Homo sapiens: one gene and its partner. The protein of the gene in region 1 interacts with the protein of each later gene in a pairwise test. Each region holds a gene or a part of one and is shown on either strand. Other genes may lie near its edges.

What was found.
Region 2: the proteins of IPO7 (region 1) and HOXA10 interact in binary tests that used the Homo sapiens proteins (3 or more experiments, as listed by UniProt).

What each region holds. Positions count from the first base shown.
Region 1 is NC_000011.10:9,379,180-9,388,188, forward strand, and holds the start of IPO7 (importin-7), read left to right. Parts: upstream 1-5,472; 5' UTR 5,473-5,584; coding exon 5,585-5,668; intron 5,669-9,009. UniProt on the Homo sapiens protein: Functions in nuclear protein import, either by acting as autonomous nuclear transport receptor or as an adapter-like protein in association with the importin-beta subunit KPNB1.
Region 2 is NC_000007.14:27,171,133-27,180,032, reverse strand, and holds the start of HOXA10 (homeobox protein Hox-A10), read left to right. Parts: upstream 1-5,712; 5' UTR 5,713-5,726; coding exon 5,727-6,684; intron 6,685-7,859; coding exon 7,860-8,134; 3' UTR 8,135-8,900. Other genes in the region: HOXA10-HOXA9 readthrough, read left to right, coding at 378-387. UniProt on the Homo sapiens protein: Sequence-specific transcription factor which is part of a developmental regulatory system that provides cells with specific positional identities on the anterior-posterior axis. Binds to the DNA sequence 5'-AA[AT]TTTTATTAC-3'.

The DNA of each region.
Region 1 (9,009 bases):
GACGTCAAGAGGAGCACATCGGTGAAGGAACACACAGGTGGCTGGACATCAAGAGGGTCGCGCTAACAGGCACTGGCATGCCGGTAGGCCACCGACCGGCAGAAGCAGAAGGAGGCGGAGTTTGGCTGGGGCAGTTGGAGGAAAACCCAGGCCGCTAACGGCCTGACTCCAGGGGAAAACCTTCCCACTCCATCCCCTTCTCATTTCCCCCATTTGCTGAGAGCTACCTCCACTTAATAAAATCTTGCACTCATTCTCCAAACCCAGGTGTGATCCAATTGTTCCGGTACACGGGGATACAGAAAGTCCTCTGTCCTTGCAACAAGGTAGGGGATCTAATTGAGCTGGTTAACACAAGCCACCTATAGACAGCAAAACTAAAAGAGCATCCTATAACACACACCCACTGGGGCTTTAGGAACTGTAAACATTCACCAGTAGACACTGCTGTGGGTTCAGAGCCCCACAGCCTTACCCGTCTGTATGTTCCCTGAGAGGTTTGAGCAGTGAGGCACTGAAGAAGGGAGCCACACCGCCATCTCAGACTCTGAGAGGGGGACGAGGGAACTTTTTCCGTGTCAATTATCATCAAGGGTCTCGTCATTGGCATTTACCCACAAAAGCCCCAATGGGGGCCTGTAAAGGGAACACTAATTCTTTCCATTCCCTTATGGTATAACTATCTTTTTTTTTCTTTTTTGAGATGGAGTCTCAATGTGTCTCCCAGGCTGGCGTGCAGTGGTGCGATCTCAGGTCACTGCAACCTCCGCCTACCAGGTTCAAAAGATTCTCCCACCTCAGCCTCCCAAGTAGCTGGGATTACAGGCACGCACCACCACACTGTGGTAATTTTTTTATTTTTACTAGAAATGGAGTTTCACCATGTTGGCCAGGCTGGTCTTGAACTCCTGACCTCAGGTGATCCACCTGCCTTGGCCTCCCAAAGTGCTGGGATTAAAGGTGTGAGCCACTGAGTCAGGCCCAGCTCTTCTTCTTCTTCTTCTTCTTTTTTTTTTTTTTTTTTTTTTTTGAGACGGATCTCACTCTGTCGCCAGGATGGAGTGCAGTGGTGTGATCTCGGCTCACTGCAACCAACCTCCACCTCCTGGGTTCAAGCAATTCTTCTGCTTCATCCTCTTGAGTAGCTGGGACTACAGGTGCACGCCACCATGTCTAGCTGAGTTTTGTATTTTTAGTAGAGATGGGGTTTCACCATGTTGGCAAGGGTGGTCTCTAACTCTCCAACCTCGTGATCTGCCAGCCTCGGCCTCCCAAAGTGCTGAGATTACAGGCATGAGGAGCCACTGTGCCCGGCCGCATCTCTTCTTAATTTTTGTCTAATTTCATCCTACCTCAAAATCAACTCTGAGACTATGGTTTATGCTTTTCTGAATTCTCAGCCTTCACCTTGCCTAAGGAGGCTTAGATACCTGTGTTGGCTGCTGTGCTGGGGATTGGGATTGTGGGACACCATAAGGTTATGTAATTGTGTTTACAGTGGCTTAACAAACCACTTTTTTCATTAGTCTTCTCATACTTATTTATTGAGCACTCATTCATTTCTGTGTCTACCACAAAAAAGATGGATGTGGTCTCTGCCCTAGAGGAGTTCACACTGAAATTTCCAGTCACGTAAGTCACATTCTCTGTGTCACTAGCTTGACAAAATAAAACTAAAATCTACAAATAGGTTGAGTGTGCTAATCACTCTACCAACTAGCTCCTGAATGCTCCCTGGGGCCAAGCTCCTTTTTTGGATACAGGAATGCTGGCTCCCCAGACAGGATCTTGTACCCAGTGTGCTCTGTTCTCTATGAAGGATGAGACACAGGCCCCATGCCAGCTGTAGATCTGCAAGCCTCGTTGGCTCCCTGTTCCCAGCACTACAGCTTAAAACCATATTTTTCACTACCACTTCTTTTCCCTTTCAGTTTTAGGGAGAGGAAACTAACATTTTTGGACTACCTTCTATGTGCCAGGTTCTTTCATATACATTGTGCTCTGCTAAAATCTTCACAATTCCGTGATAAACAAGTCAATTCTGGAATCTAAAATAGGCATATAATATCAGAAAGAGGACTAGCTTTTGAATCATGAAGAATGAAGCTTCAATTCTGGCTCAGCCACCTATAAGTCATTACTAGTTTATTAATTCCTTTCTTCATTTATTCACTTAAAGAATTTTTTAAACTCCTCCTTTACATTCTAACTCTGTGGTAGGAGGTGAGGATACAAAGGTCAATAGAACATAAGCCTGTTTTCAAGGCCTTCACTTTGAGCAGTGGAGCAGGGAGAGGAAAATTCTTTTTATTTCTGAGACGGCGTTTCACTCTTGTTGCCCAGGCTGGAGTGCAATGGCACGATCTCAGCTCACTGCAACCTCCGCCTTCCGGGTTCAAACAATTCAGGGAGAGGAAAATTCTTAAACAGATTGTATTTGTAACACTATTACACTTTTTACAGGTTATTATTATGAAAACTTTCTGACTCCTCACAATTTAAGTAGCCTGAGCCTCGGGTTCTTCATTTGTAAATTTTTTTTTTTTGAGACGGAGTCTTGCTCTGTTGCCCAGGCTGGAGTGCACTGGTGCGATCTCAGCTCACTGCAACCTCTGCCTCCCTGGTCCAGGTGATTCTCCTGCCTCAGCCTCCTGAGTATCTGGGATTACAGGTGAGCACCACCATGCCTGGCTAATTTTTTTTTTTTTTTTGAGACAGAGTCTTGCTCAGTCGCCCAGGCTGGAATGCAGTGGCCCGATCTCGACTCACTGCAAGCTCCACTCCCCGGGTTACGCCATTCTCCTGCCTCAGCCTCCCGAGTAGCTGGGACTACAGGCACCGGCCACCACGCCCGGCTAATTTTTTTGTATTTTTATTTTTATTTATTTATTTATTTTATTTTTTATTTTTTATTTTTTTTGAGACGGAGTCTGGCTCTGTCCGCCAGGCTGGAGTGCAGTGGCGCGATCTTGGCTCACTGCAAGCTCCGCCTCTCGGGTTCGCGCCATTCTCCTGCCTCAGCCTCCCGAGCAGCTGGGACTACAGGCGCCCGCTACCGCGCTCGGCTAATTTTTTGTATTTTCAGTAGAGACAAGGTTTCACCATGTTAGTCAGGATGGTTTCGATCTCCTGACCTTGTGATCCGCCCGCCTCGGCCTCCCAAAGTGCTGGGATTACAGGCGTGAGCCACCGCGCCCGGTCTTTTTTGTATTTTTAGTAGAGAGAGGGTTTCACTGTGTTAGCCAGGATGATCTCGATCTCCTGACCTCGTAATCCGCCCGCCTTGGCCTCCCAAAGTGCTGGGATTACAGGCGTGAGCCACCGGGCCAGGCAATTTTTGTATTTTTAGTAGAGATGGGGTTTTGCCATGTTGGCCAGGCTGGTCTCGAACTCTTGACCTCAGGTGATCCCGCCCACCTCAGCCTCTCAAATTGCTGTGGTTACGGTTGTGAGCCACCATGCCCGGCCTAAATTAGGAATAATTCTGTCTTACTTCCAGTACTTCCAGGCACAGTGGCTGGCATATACAAGGTAGTAACATTGCAAAACCCACCGCTTCAGGGAAAGGCTTTCGTGAGCCTTTCCTTCTCTTTTTTTTGTAAATTAAAAACAATAAGTGATCATTTAACACATTGTATTTGAAGGCTTATAATTAATTTTAAGTATATCTGTTTATATAACTTTGTTACAATAATAACAGATATGAAAGGAAATTACTCCAAATCTCACCATCCTGTTAATAGAAAATAAATTATTTTCATTTGCTAACCTTGCTTTTCAGTCTTTGTCCATGTTACAAAGCTATATCCTTCCATAAATACTTTTTTGTTATATTTTTTAATGGCTGTGAAATATTTAATTTACTGGATTCTTGCTATTTGCTTAACCAGTCCTATATTGTTCAACATTTCTCTTCAGAGGCAGAGTGATTTAGTGGAAACAATGGAAAGTTTGAAAACAAAGATCTTAGGTTTGAAATCTTAGTTGAACCTCTTACTACGTGACCTTGGGTAAGTTATTTAACCTTTCTAAAACAAACTTTTTCTTGGCTGTTATAAAAGAGGACTTTTTCTTTCTTTCTTTCTCCCCCACCTCCCTCTTTTTTTAGAGATGGGGTCTCGCTATGTAGCCCAGGCTGTAGCGTAGTGGCTACTCATAGGCACGATCTTAACAGGCTGTCACCTTGAACTTCTGGTCTCAAGCAATCCTCCTGCCTCAACAGGAGGATTACGCCTGGCTAGGAAGGTGTCTTTTATTTTTATTTATTTATTTATTTATTTTTGAGATAGAGTCTCGCTCTGTCACCCAGGCTGGAGTGCAGTGGCATGATCTCGGCTCACTGCAAGCTCCACCTCCTGGATTCACGCCATTCTCCTGCCTCAGTGTAGCTGGGACTACAGGCGCCCACCACCACACCCGGCTAATTTTTTGTATTTTTAGTAGAGACGGGGCTTCACCGTGTTAGCTAGGATGGTCTCAATCTCCTGACCTTGTGATCCGCCCACCTTGGCCTCCCAAAGTGCTGGGATTACAGGTGTGAGCCACCGCGCCTGGCAGGAAGGTGTATTTTAATAGGGATTATGCTTTTACTCTGCATTAAGAGGTGATTTATATGAAGTCCCAACTAAAATTTGGATACTCAATAAAAAGCCATGATTTCAGTATTTGGTAATTACTAATACGTAATGTGATAAAAACCTTTCACACATAAAGTTCATTTAATCTTCCGTGTTATTGCCTTAGGATAAAGTCTCATAAGTGGAATTACTGGGTCAGAGTTTAAACATTTCGTTTCGTTTTGTTTTTTTGAGACGGAGTTTCGCTCTTGTTGCCCAAGCTGGAGTGCAATGGCACGATCTCGGCTCACTGCAACCTCCGCTTCCCGGGTTCAAGCGATTCTCCTGCCTCAGCCTCCCTAGTAGCTGAGACTACAGGCGCGTGCCACCACGCCCGGCTAATTTTTTGTATTTTTAGTAGAAACGGGGTTTCGCCGTGTTAGCCAGGATGCTCTCGATCTCCTGATCTCGTGATCCGCCCGCCTTGGCCTCCCAAAGTGCTGGGATTACAGGCGTGAACCACCGCGCCCGGCAGTTTAAATATTTTAGTGGCTATCAGAAACACATCTCAAATTGCTTTTCAGAAAGTTTCCTTCAATCACGCAGCCATTAGCAATCGATTGCACCACACACTGTATCTGACTCCCTTTATGAACATTGTGGATATAGTATGTGAAACCTTTTGTAACTGATTGTTTTGCTTTTCTTTTTGTGGAACTTGAACATTTTTCGTTTTTGAACAGAAAGACTTGTCTGTAGGAACGACAGCTCAGGCAGCCACGTGGGCTGCGGACTGTGTTTGTGGACTACATCTCCCAAAGTGCTCCGCAGGCGCGCCCACAGGAAGTCGCCGGAGCATCTCCCGCCTCCACGCCGAGGCGAAGAGGTTCTATCCGGGGCCTTGGCGCTTCTCTTTCCTTTCGCGCCGGTTGCCGCTGCGGAGCGCGGCGGGTCCATGTGCGCAGTGAGTGGCGCTATTCCTGGCCCAGTAGCACCCGAGCCCCGGGTTTGACCGAGTCCGCGCTGCGATGGACCCCAACACCATTATCGAGGCCCTGCGGGGCACTATGGACCCAGCCCTGCGTGAGGCCGCGGAGCGCCAGCTCAATGAAGTAAGGACGCCCGGCTAGCGGTGGCGGCGGGCAGGCGGGTGGGCAGAAGTGGCAGGCCGAGCCCCCGGGGCCTGGCCGGAGGCGCGGACGACGTCGTTGAGGGTCCCAGCAGGAGGGTGGGGCGGACATCTGACGGCGACTTCCACGCCGGGGCGCCTCGGTGTGGTGTGGTGGTGGTGGCTGCAGCCAAGGCTGCCTTTGCTTCGGATCCTGAGCTGGGCCTCTGGCTGCGGTCTAGGCATGAGGAGCCGGCTGAGGCGGGGCGGGCGTGACGGGTTGGACACATGGCTGGCTCGGGTGGCTGGCCGACCTCTGGCTCATTCCCAGCTGGTTCCTCACGTCCAGGAGGGGGCGAAACTTACTGGGAGGTTTTTCAGATGTTTCTGAGACCAGTCTCGCCGTCGCAGGGTTTGGAAGGGCTCCTGGGAATGCCGGCTGGTCCTTTGGGGGCTGCGCCTGTCATCCTTGTCACTTTGCTGGGCTGATCAGTGGCCTGCCTCGGGCACAACTTCCTCCTCTCTGGCTGAGTTGCTAGGGAAGGCTTTCAAAGGCAAGCCCGCGCCTCCTTGGCAGGATAGGAGTAGTGCGGGACACTCACAGAGTCTGATCCCTGCTTTTCCGCTGTCCTAATGCTTCAGTCGGGGAGCTGGCTTATGTAGTGGGAAGGATCAGGTGAAGTGCACCCTTCTAGGTATAGCTGCACCATTGATTCCTTGAGTGACCTTGGGCCAGTCGCTTAACCTCTTGATCCTGAGTTTTTCCCATTCATAAAATTACGCCACAGAGTTGCTGTGACAGACAGGTGAGATAATGTTAAGTCTGAGTGCCTTGGAACATGCTGAGCTCCTTATCAGTTCAGATATTGCATTCTCTGAAGGTTTTTTTTTTCCCCCATATTTTGTGGGGACCGCTCCTTGGAAAACAGCTTAATTGCATGAATATTTATTGTACTATCTCCAGTGTCATTCTTTGTTTCTAAACTTTTGCATTTTTACGTATTAATGATCAGTATTTTAAATCCTTCTTAAAAGGGCTGCTGTAACTTTTCTGCCAGTTAGTAACTGTCCTTCAGCATGCTGCTGAATCTGCCAGCTTTACTGAACTTTAGTGTACATTTTTTAACTGAAAAAGAAATCACACTTTAAAATAGAAATTCAACTATTTTATGCGTCTTTTAGCTGGTAAGTAAATAATTTAAAAACATTGTTTATATTGACTTACCAGAAACAGCAGAAATATTACTAACTGGACTTTCAGTGTAAAGGGCTGCACTAGAGATCCCTGCCCTCACGGAACTTACAGTTCAAGAAGACTACCTACAGAGTTTACACAAATTAAATGTAAAATTATTTCAGAATGTTAAATCTATTTTATATGTAAATGAGATCATTATTATACCACACAAAGTGATGATTACATGTTCAAATTTTTAGACTCAGAGTCACCTTGGGAGGAGCTTAGATTTTTTTGGATATAAAATAGTGAGTTGAACCGTATTACCATTTTGAACCATTACCAAACTATGGAAGGAGCAATGGATCACTTTTTGTTTTGATTTGCTTAGTGATAGACATGGGTTAAGTTGAAAATTATTTTGCTTATTAAATAGTAATGCAGTTACAAGCCTAGAAAAGCTAAAAGTTTAGTCATGGTCATTTCTACCATGACTTTGCTCTAATCGCGTATTATTTTGACTAATTATACTTGCATGTAATTATTAATTTTAAAAGTGAGTACTTGAAGAGTTGGTTTGCTTCTACAAAAATGGGGGAAATAATACTTCCTGAAAATCTGAAATTCATTTATTCCTCAAATAGACATTACATGTCTAGTATATGCACTAACATCTTGTAGTAGAAACCTGGGGTATTTCACAAGCTAGTTTTTGGAAGATAAACAAATGATCAAAATAGTATTCAATGCCTTTTTTACTTAACCATTAAACTACTGTTTTGGAATACTGTCAAACAGTGAACACCGCTAATCTGTCAAAGAAAATTTGTTACATGGCCTTTATTTTTGTAATCCTTAACTATTTACATTTCATACATTTCTTTCAATTATAACACCTAGATTTTTAAATATTCTTCCTAAGGTAAATTTTCTATTAGTATATTTACTTTCATTCCATTTTAATACACTACTTCTCCCTCTCCCTTCTTCCATTTAAATATTTTTTGCTTTGACTTTCTTGTGGCAGAACATTGATTTGGGAGACAGATCTCAGACAAGTCTTGAATATTGTTAAGAATGAGGAAGTAACATTTCTGAAAGGCTCTTGCTTTGGAGAAGATAGAAGAACGAATTATTCTATGATGTCTCTCATTCCAGTGAAGCTGTGTTTTGGTTCATTTAGAACCAAAGAATAAGATCATTGACATTTGAATGAATCTCTTCACAAAGTGAAATAATCACTGACTCAATGTAAAATTTGTAAATGTTATTAAAGTGTTTATAGTATAGACAGTTTCGAAACAAAATAGCCCTTCTGCCTCAGAGTCTTTGCACTTAACTCCTTGGAACTCCTTTCACATAGTTATCCCCCTAACTTGTTCTCTCATTTCCTTCCATCCCTGTTCAAATGTCTCCTTATCACTGAGGAGTTCCTTGACCATCATACTCCCTATCTCCTTTCACTTGTTTTTCTCTATAGCACTGATTTGTCATACATATTTGGCTTACTTTTAAAATTAATTTTATTTGGCCAGGCACGGTGGCTCACGCCTGTAATCCCAGCATTTTGTGAGGCTGAGGCGGACTGATCACTTGAGGTTGGGAGTTTGAGACCAGCCTGACCAACATGGAGAAACCCCATCTCTACTAAGAATACAAAATTAGCTGGGCGCGGTGGCGCATGCTTGTAATCCCAGCTACTCAGGAGGCTGAGGCAGAAGAATCGCTTGAACCTGGGAGGCGGAGGTTGCGGTGAGCTGAGATCGTGCCACTGCACTCCAGCCTGGGCAACAGAGTGAGACTCCATCTCAAAAAAATTAATTAATTAATTAAATTTAAAACATTGGCTGGGCATGGTGGCTCATGCCTGGAATTCCAGCACTTTGGGAGTCCGAGGCGGGCGGATCACCTGAGGTTGGGAGTTCGAGACCAGCCTGACCAACATGGAGAAACCCCGTCTCTACTAAAAATACAAAATTAGCTGGGCGTGGTGGCGCATGCCTGTAATCCCAGCTACTAGGGAGGCTGAGGCAGGAGAATCGCTTGAACCCGGGAGGTGGAGGTTGCGGTGAGCCGAGATCGTACCATTGCACTCCAGCCTGAGCAACAAGAGCGAAACTGCGTCTCAAAAAATAAAAATAAAAATAAATAAATAAATAAATTTTTTT
Region 2 (8,900 bases), on another chromosome or scaffold:
CTCAATAGCAGCGGGCTGGGCACATCCTCTCCTCTCTCCTTCTCTCTCTGCCCGGAGCTGGTTTCCGTCTCTCGGCTCGGGGCTGGAACTCCGGCCCAACCTAGGCGCGCAGCCGCCACGAGATGGCGCACTTCCGATCAATGTCAAAGCCGCCGGGGAGCCGGGAACCCCAGCATGATTCTTGGCCTTTGTTCGCTTCTGATACTAAGAGCAGCACGGTACATTATTTCACTTGTCCCGCTCCCCTTCATAACAGAAAAAGGGGACTCACCCTCAAGAAGTGATTGGTATGGTAATTTAAAGCAACGCGCATTCGCTAGGCCTCGCGAGCGTCGCCGCGCGGAGAAGCCAGCTGTCCCTTGGCAGTGATTTCGGAAATGTGTCAAGGTAAGAGGCCACAAGTTTAGCAATTTCAGTCTGGTGGGGCGGGAGTGGGGAGGTGGCCGATGTCTAAGCAGGGCTCTCGGGAACGTGGCTGGGTTTGTGGGGTGACGCGGTAGGGAGCCCCCACCCCATTGCTCCCTAAGGTTGGAAAGCAGGGGGAGGCCTAAGTAGAAAAGTTGAGGATTTTAGCTCCTTGCGCCAGCATTTCACTCAAGGCGAATCTTTCGATTTTGTAGAAATACACAGAATAGAATGGGCTAGGGATGAGAGGCATCTAGGCGAAAGTGTTCCAGCTGTGCTGCGATAGGGGGTTGTGGGAGGGCAAAAAAAAAAAAAAAGGTGATCGCGGGTTGAGGAAAACAAAGTTTCCATTCTAAACAATGGGGTGGTAGAAGTCTGCGGCCGCTAAGGCGAGCTTATTCCCAGGGGCAGAAGTCCTGGAGGTCACTGGTTTCCTACTAGGTGCATCTCTATGTCTGCCCGGCAGCTTGGAGAAAACCTTTGTTCCGAAAAAGGCCAATTCGGAGAAGTCGCATGTGATTTTTGAGAGTGCCAGACAAGTCTCTGTGTTGCATACTTGGAGTACGCTGTTATAAACCCAGCTGCAATTTCGCAGCAATTTCTTACATATGAAAATTAGATCTTTTGTAGAAGATATTTTGCAAATATGCAAAAATGTATTGGTAAATACTAATACTTTTTTAAAAAGCTGGAACCGAGGATAAATTTTGACGGAGCAATCACTCCATTGGGGTTGTCATCAAACACATTTTAAATGAAAAAATTCCATTACATTTTGAAGGATCGATTCAAATTCCCTCTTTCTCCTATATTTAATTTTTTCTACTATTTTTCCATTAGTTTCCCACATCTTTTTCTTTTCCCAAATATACAGTGCGTGGTGAGTGGGGTGAATCCCAGAGAAAGTAGGCACTGCCTGTTTGTTGCGTAAATTTTGCCTATCATAGTTACTAGTCTTTGTTGAAGGCTGGCTCCCAAACTATGACGGAGCAAAGCAACAAGGCAAGAAATGAGCGCCCACCCAGTGAGCTGCTCTCTGCAGCGGGAGCCCTCCCTACAATGCCAGAGCCGCCTCCAGTTCTAAGGCCAGAGGCTGTTTATTATGAACAAATCTAAGAATATTGCAATTCAAAGGGTGTGTGAAAAGGCCCCAACACTTCCCTAACAGGGGAAGGGCCATCTTAATGGTTGGATTTAGAAAACTTTAAAAGTATGTTGTTTAGTAATAGATTGCACCTGATAGATTCAAAACAGACACATCAAATATCCCTGAAAATGTTGACATTCTTAAAGATGAATGGGAAAAGAACATCATTGCTTGTGGAAAAATTTTCTAACTATGCATAAATGCATGGATATGAGAAGCTCTGATTTTTTTTTCTTTTTTTGCTAAAGCCAGATATGTAAAAGCAGCCTTTATTTTTCCTCTGTGGGACTGCAGCCCAACTCCACCGCTGGATAATTCAGAGTCTTGAAAGCATTGAGAGTGCCCTCCAGATATAAATTGTTTACTAGCAGTTTCGATCTCAGGACCTGGTATCTTTTCATTAGGAACTTGTTTTTCATAATAGTTTATTTCTCACTGCTTACAAGGGCCTACTCAGAAGGAGTACCTAGTGAACTGCAGCCTAATCCTTGCCGAAGGCCTTAATCCATGGGCCTGGTGTTTACTTTGGCCCCATAGGGCTGGCAGGTTATTACCCGGGTAGAAATGGGCAATATTTCCTCCTAAATAAAACATGGGCTCTGGAGGTGACTGTGTAACCGCTGCATAAGGCCTGGTTGAGGCAAGCAGGCACTGAAGATTTAGGTCAAAGTTACCCTGAGGGAGAGGGAGAAATTTAGTAGCTGGGAAGAATGGCAAAAAAGAAAGAAGGCAAATGAGCACGAGGGAGGAAAAGTGCTTGGAAGCCGACCCACACTACAACTGAATCGCTTTCTTCATCTCTTGGGGTGGGGAATCTCAGGAAAGCCGAGGCGCTCAATAAATGGAATATTTTATTGAGAAACCTAACACTCCAGTGTTAAAGTCTAGAGAGCATGGGAGCCTTGGGGGTCGGTCAGGGATGCTGGGGGCTAGGAGACCAACTGAGAGGGCCAAGGAGGCGTTTAACTTGAGCTTCTGCTGCGTTAGTATCCTCTCATTTGAACCAGCAGCAGCCGGCCCGCCTGCAGCCGGCCAGCTCACCGGCAGTGTCTCGCTGCGTTTCCCACTCAGCAAGCCCTGGTGGGAGTTGGAAGGCAGTCCTGGGCCAGAGAGGGGCTGCCATACATGAGCTTACACACTCTTTTTAAAAGCCAGAAGGAGCTCAAGCCCAACATCCCGTTTGGTTTATTACAAGGGGGAAAAAGTCATACTAAAGAAACACATCTGGCTCACCACAGAAAGGTCACTGAAGACCCAAGTGCCAACGCCACGGCTTGCGAGGCCCATAGCAGGCCTCCCAGCTCCTCTACTCTTCGGCTGGGGCAGCCTTTTGTAGCAGATGCGATACAAACTGACTTTTGTAACCTTGGTTGGCACGTGCAGGTCCCTGGATTCTATCCAGCCTAGAAGCCCATTTGGCTGCCCTACGGGGCCCTGACCTGAGCTGTCTGCTGCAGGGCACCCAGCTTGTCTTGCCAGCCAAATTGGCAGGGCCCCCAAGTCCCAGGACACTGGGGGACTCTGGAAGACCCAAGGAAAAGACTGAGGGGTGTGTGAACTCCTTCGAAATGATGGATCAAATTGTGGGAATATACAGATATGCATTTTTCACAGAATGAGTCAAAACTTACTTGGATTTTCCAGAAGGGTCCTGACTCCCTAAAAGGTTAGGAAAGATAGGTTAAGATCATTGTCTTTTACTTTATTTGTATAGCCTCCACTATCTCAAATATATACTGGACCTTCCCAGATGTCGGCCTGGGAAGTTGCTTTCTGCATTTAGCCTGGAGAGGCATGACTCTAGGCCCAGGTCCTGGCCCACTGACCTGCCACGGCTCATTATCCTTGAGGAAACCTCGAAGGTCTTGGGACCCACTTGCCAAATGACACAGCTTTTCTGAGAGGCATGGGCAGTGCTGAAGAGCAAAGCTTCCTTCCTAGGCAGCCCCCAGCTCTGTGGCATTTCCAGGTGGCATTGCTAAGGGCAACAGTCCCAGCCAGTTCCACCCTTCTGGTGAGCAGGGTAAGGACCAGGCAGATCCGGGAAGCTAAAGATAGGGCCACTGGCTGCGGTGCTCTGAAGCTTTTCTGCACTCAGGTTCGTCCGTCTCATGGGCCTAGAGGGTAGAGAATTTGCCTTGGCCTTGGGCGCAGGAGCATGCGAAGAGCGAAGGAGAGTTAATGATCTCTTGGCACAGACCCTGTCTTGATCCCTCTAAAGCCGCTGCTGCAGCTTCAAGACCCTGTCAGGCTGGAGAGAACTGGCTTTCTTATTCTCTCTCCCCTCCTGTTTCTCTCTCTTTTCTCTCCCTCTGTCCGTCTCTCCTTCTATCTCTCTCTTTTTCTCTCCATCCTCCTCCTCCGCACCCTGATGCTCAGTCCTTACGGCCGGGTCACCGTGGGGCGCCGAGGTTGAAGTGGCTGGAGCGCCGCGCTAGCGGTGGAGCGGCCTTCTGGGCCCGGAGCTCGGAGCAGCCACTGCCCGCAGCGACCGCAGCTGCTTGAATCTCAGAAGCCAGAGCTGGAGCTCTACCTAGCCAGCTCTCTCTGCGCTTTCAGGGTCCTCTCAGGCTCCTCTTCCACCTTGGGCTGGATTCACACTGGGAGGAAGGAGGCAAAGTGCCGCGTATGACCCGGATGCAAGAGTCTTTCCCAGCTGAAGGCAGCGGCCTGAGCGGTCTATTTCCTGGGATGCCGGCGTTCAGTAATGCCAGCTCCGACTGGGGCCGGAGGGGCGGGCAGGCCTAGAGTATCCTGGAGACCTGTAGCCCACGGGCCAGGGGCAAGGCAGCGACCTCCCGGGCTCCACTGGATCTGGCCGGAAAAGGTTGCATTTCCTGAGACTAGCATGAGGCTCACACTTGGGGGCTAGCACCCCAGGCCGGCCATTTCCAGTTGGCTAAAACAGAGCCCCTGAGCCTGCTGAGCAAAGGGCCTGACCTCCACATGCTCTTATAACAGGACCATGAGCCCAGCCCGGCCTTGCAGGGAAAGGATTTCCTCACCGAGGCCTCGTTAAAATGCACACACTGCAGGAGCAAGGACTGCCCTAGCTGAGGGTATGGGAGGGAGGGGAAGAGGGGAGGGGACAGAGAGGTAGGAGTGTAGTGACACTGGTTCTTGTTGTAGCCTCCAGGAGCATATGAGTGCCAAAGCTAACAGGAGAGCAGGAACATAAAGCAGCGGAGGTGTACACCGGGCACACCCCTCCAAGTCTCTCACTTTGGGCCAGCCAAGGACCCCAAGGCCAGCATTTTACTTCCCCGAAATGACTGTGGGCTTAGAGTCTTCCCTAGGTGATGAGGGGATGCTTGGATCTGGCTCTGGCCTTGGGAGTGGGAGTGGGGCCGTCTTTCCATCAAGGCTGGCAGCCGCTTCCCACCCCCAGTCCCGCCAGCCCACCAAAGTCCACTGACAGGAGTTGTAGAGAAGGCAAGCCGGGTGAGCACAACACCAGAGGAGAAGATCCTAACTGGATCAACGGACTAGGGGAGAAAAGTGTTGGGGGTTAGGGGCTAGGGAACAACCACTGCATTTTGGGGAAAAATCTGTGGATACTGGAAGTAGAGGCAAGTCAGCTTCTAGTTCACTCTGGGCTCCTGACACTCTGAGGATCCTGACGGCCATAGGGCCAGGTTCGCCACTTTTGAGGAGGCAGAATTCAGACAAGGGGCCAGTTCCAGATCCAGAGCTGAATGGGAAGCGCGTGAGTCCCCGACACGGCCGCTTCAGTGGTTAGAGTACACCGGGGACTAGTGGCAGCTTCTGCGACAGGGATGGTGAGCACCCAAGGCAGACTGGGCGCGCACCATAAACACCCCACTTGTTAACTGCGCGGGGCCCAAGGGCCCTTCTAAGGGACCCCGGTATGGGGCTCACGTCCGGGTAGGGGCGGGGCGAGCCCAATGGCCAGGCCCCCCACCAGCCACGTTGGGGCAGCCCCCACAGCTCCCGGCCTTCGGGCCAAGGTGTCGGGGTGCGTCTCCTGGCCCATCAATACAGATTACATATTTATATCAATCGCGGGCTCTGAGGGCGCCCTCGGAGAGCGGCCCCGCGCCTACGAAACCAAACTGGGAGTGGTCGCGCGGAAACTCTGGCTCGGGATTGGCTGCGGGCGCCCGCCGCGGTGCGGGGGGATTGCTAATCGTATTCAGCATGTTTTGCACAAGAAATGTCAGCCAGAAAGGGCTATCTGCTCCCTTCGCCAAATTATCCCACAACAATGTCATGCTCGGAGAGCCCCGCCGCGAACTCTTTTTTGGTCGACTCGCTCATCAGCTCGGGCAGAGGCGAGGCAGGCGGCGGTGGTGGTGGCGCGGGGGGCGGCGGCGGTGGCGGTTACTACGCCCACGGCGGGGTCTACCTGCCGCCCGCCGCCGACCTGCCCTACGGGCTGCAGAGCTGCGGGCTCTTCCCCACGCTGGGCGGCAAGCGCAATGAGGCAGCGTCGCCGGGCAGCGGTGGCGGTGGCGGGGGTCTAGGTCCCGGGGCGCACGGCTACGGGCCCTCGCCCATAGACCTGTGGCTAGACGCGCCCCGGTCTTGCCGGATGGAGCCGCCTGACGGGCCGCCGCCGCCGCCCCAGCAGCAGCCGCCGCCCCCGCCGCAACCACCCCAGCCAGCGCCGCAGGCCACCTCGTGCTCTTTCGCGCAGAACATCAAAGAAGAGAGCTCCTACTGCCTCTACGACTCGGCGGACAAATGCCCCAAAGTCTCGGCCACCGCCGCCGAACTGGCTCCCTTCCCGCGGGGCCCGCCGCCCGACGGCTGCGCCCTGGGCACCTCCAGCGGGGTGCCAGTGCCTGGCTACTTCCGCCTTTCTCAGGCCTACGGCACCGCCAAGGGCTATGGCAGCGGCGGCGGCGGCGCGCAGCAACTCGGGGCTGGCCCGTTCCCCGCGCAGCCCCCGGGGCGCGGTTTCGATCTCCCGCCCGCGCTAGCCTCCGGCTCGGCCGATGCGGCCCGGAAGGAGCGAGCCCTCGATTCGCCGCCGCCCCCCACGCTGGCTTGCGGCAGCGGCGGGGGCTCGCAGGGCGACGAGGAGGCGCACGCGTCGTCCTCGGCCGCGGAGGAGCTCTCCCCGGCCCCTTCCGAGAGCAGCAAAGCCTCGCCGGAGAAGGATTCCCTGGGTAAGCAGGGCTGCAGAGGGCTGCAGTCAGGCGGGCAGACAGGCAGACACAAGGAGGAGAAGGATCAGAAAACTAGGAGCCCGCGCAGCAGCCGGCCGGCCTTGGCCCAAGCTGCAGGCAGGCTGACCTTGTGAACTTGCTTTTTAATATTTGGGCGTGGGGACGCAGTAAAATTCATGTCCGGCTTAGCGCCCCACAGCAAGACGTCCTCGGCGCTGGCCTCAGCTCCCCCTGACTAGGGACGAGGACACCAGCGAGCAGGCCCCCTCCTGTGCGCTCTTTCCTGTGGCCGGGAGGACCCAGAGCCCTGGTCCCTGCCCAGCCTGCGCGGCGCGGCCCACGCGGGGGGAGGGGGAGGGAGGGAAAGTAGCTCGCCCGCAGATAGCGCGGATGTTTGTAAGGCATCCAAAATAAGCAGCCGCCAGCGCCAATAAATAAGCCCATTAACCGGCGAAGTTCGAGTTTACGATCCCCCATGCTTTTTTCAAAGTTGCTGAGGGGCGGGAATCTTCGTTGCGGGAAGAAGAAAAGGCAAATCCGGCCTGGAAGCGGGGGGCCCTGAGCTGAGAGCCAGAGAAGGGCCATTTCCCTTCCCCTGGACCTCGGAATCGCCCAGCTATCTATCCCTGGCTCCTGGAGAAACTTGAGGGAGGGCCCTTGACCCCCGAATCGGTTTTTCCTGCCTTCCCCATTGGACCAATGATGCCCTTCTTTCTCCCCTTATCGAGTCTTGGGCAATCAGGGCCCTGGGGTGAGACAGCCAAGCTGCCTGGCCCATCTTCCAAGTAAGCACCCCGCGCTCCTAGCCTGGGGGCTACAGGAAATGCTTGTCTGCCATATGGCAAGAGGCAAAGAAAAGCGTTAAGTTCAAGATGTACAGCCTGCCCTCCCAGGCCTTTCCTTCTGCAAGCATCTACGGCTTAGCGCTAAAACAGGTGTTTGGAAAAGTGGGGGAAATGTAAATTGGAAGGGTCATGTAGATTGAAGGCCCACTCAATTTTTGTCATGACTTTTGGAGGAACTGCTTGCTCTCAGCAAGCCAAAAACGGGGGCACGACTCTCTTCTCTGTGACTTGGGACATCTCTCTTATGGGAGAAACGGAGGCAATTCACCCCCGCGGGCAGCCCGTGTGGCCTCGACTTAATCATCCCCTCTTTATTCTCTTACATGCCAGGCAATTCCAAAGGTGAAAACGCAGCCAACTGGCTCACGGCAAAGAGTGGTCGGAAGAAGCGCTGCCCCTACACGAAGCACCAGACACTGGAGCTGGAGAAGGAGTTTCTGTTCAATATGTACCTTACTCGAGAGCGGCGCCTAGAGATTAGCCGCAGCGTCCACCTCACGGACAGACAAGTGAAAATCTGGTTTCAGAACCGCAGGATGAAACTGAAGAAAATGAATCGAGAAAACCGGATCCGGGAGCTCACAGCCAACTTTAATTTTTCCTGATGAATCTCCAGGCGACGCGGTTTTTTCACTTCCCGAGCGCTGGTCCCCTCCCTCTGTCTTCAGGCTCTGCCCAGGAACTCGCACCTGTGCTGGAGCCCTGTTCCTCCCTCCCACACTCGCCATCTCCTGGGCCGTTACATCTGTGCAGGGCTGGTTTGTTCTGACTTTTTGTTTCTTTGTGTTTGCTTGGTGCTGGTTTATTTGTTGTTTTCTGGGGGAAAAAGCCATATCATGCTAAAATTCTATAGAGATAGATATTGTCCTAAGTGTCAAGTCCTGACTGGGCTGGGTTTGCTGTCTTGGGGTCCCACTGCTCGAAATGGCCCCTGTCTTCGGCCGAGCTGGTTTCCTGCCCAGCCTGGGGCAAACCTAGCCGGAAGGCCGAGGTCCCATTGTTGGCGCTGAGGTGTCTGGCCTGAGGTCAATGGTGCAAAGGAGCCGCCACCGGGCATGTCTGCCTGGAGTGCTGTGCTGTGTTTAATCAGGGGATACAGGCCCCTGGGTTTCTTTTTTCTTTCTTCCTTTCTTCCTTGGCCAAGAGAAGGGCTTACAGGCATGGACATGCAGGTTGGCAAACGGGCTTGACTTTGGCTGATTTAAAAAGTGAGAAAGAAAGTAAAAAAGGTTAATTTTTCCTTCCTCTGTAAGATATCCCAGCTTTAAAAAGAAAAAAAAAGAATTACCAAGAGAAGGGGACTTCTCTTCCAGTTTCTGTAAGGTCTTACATTGCCTGACTAAAATGTTTCATTTACCTCTAAATTTCCAT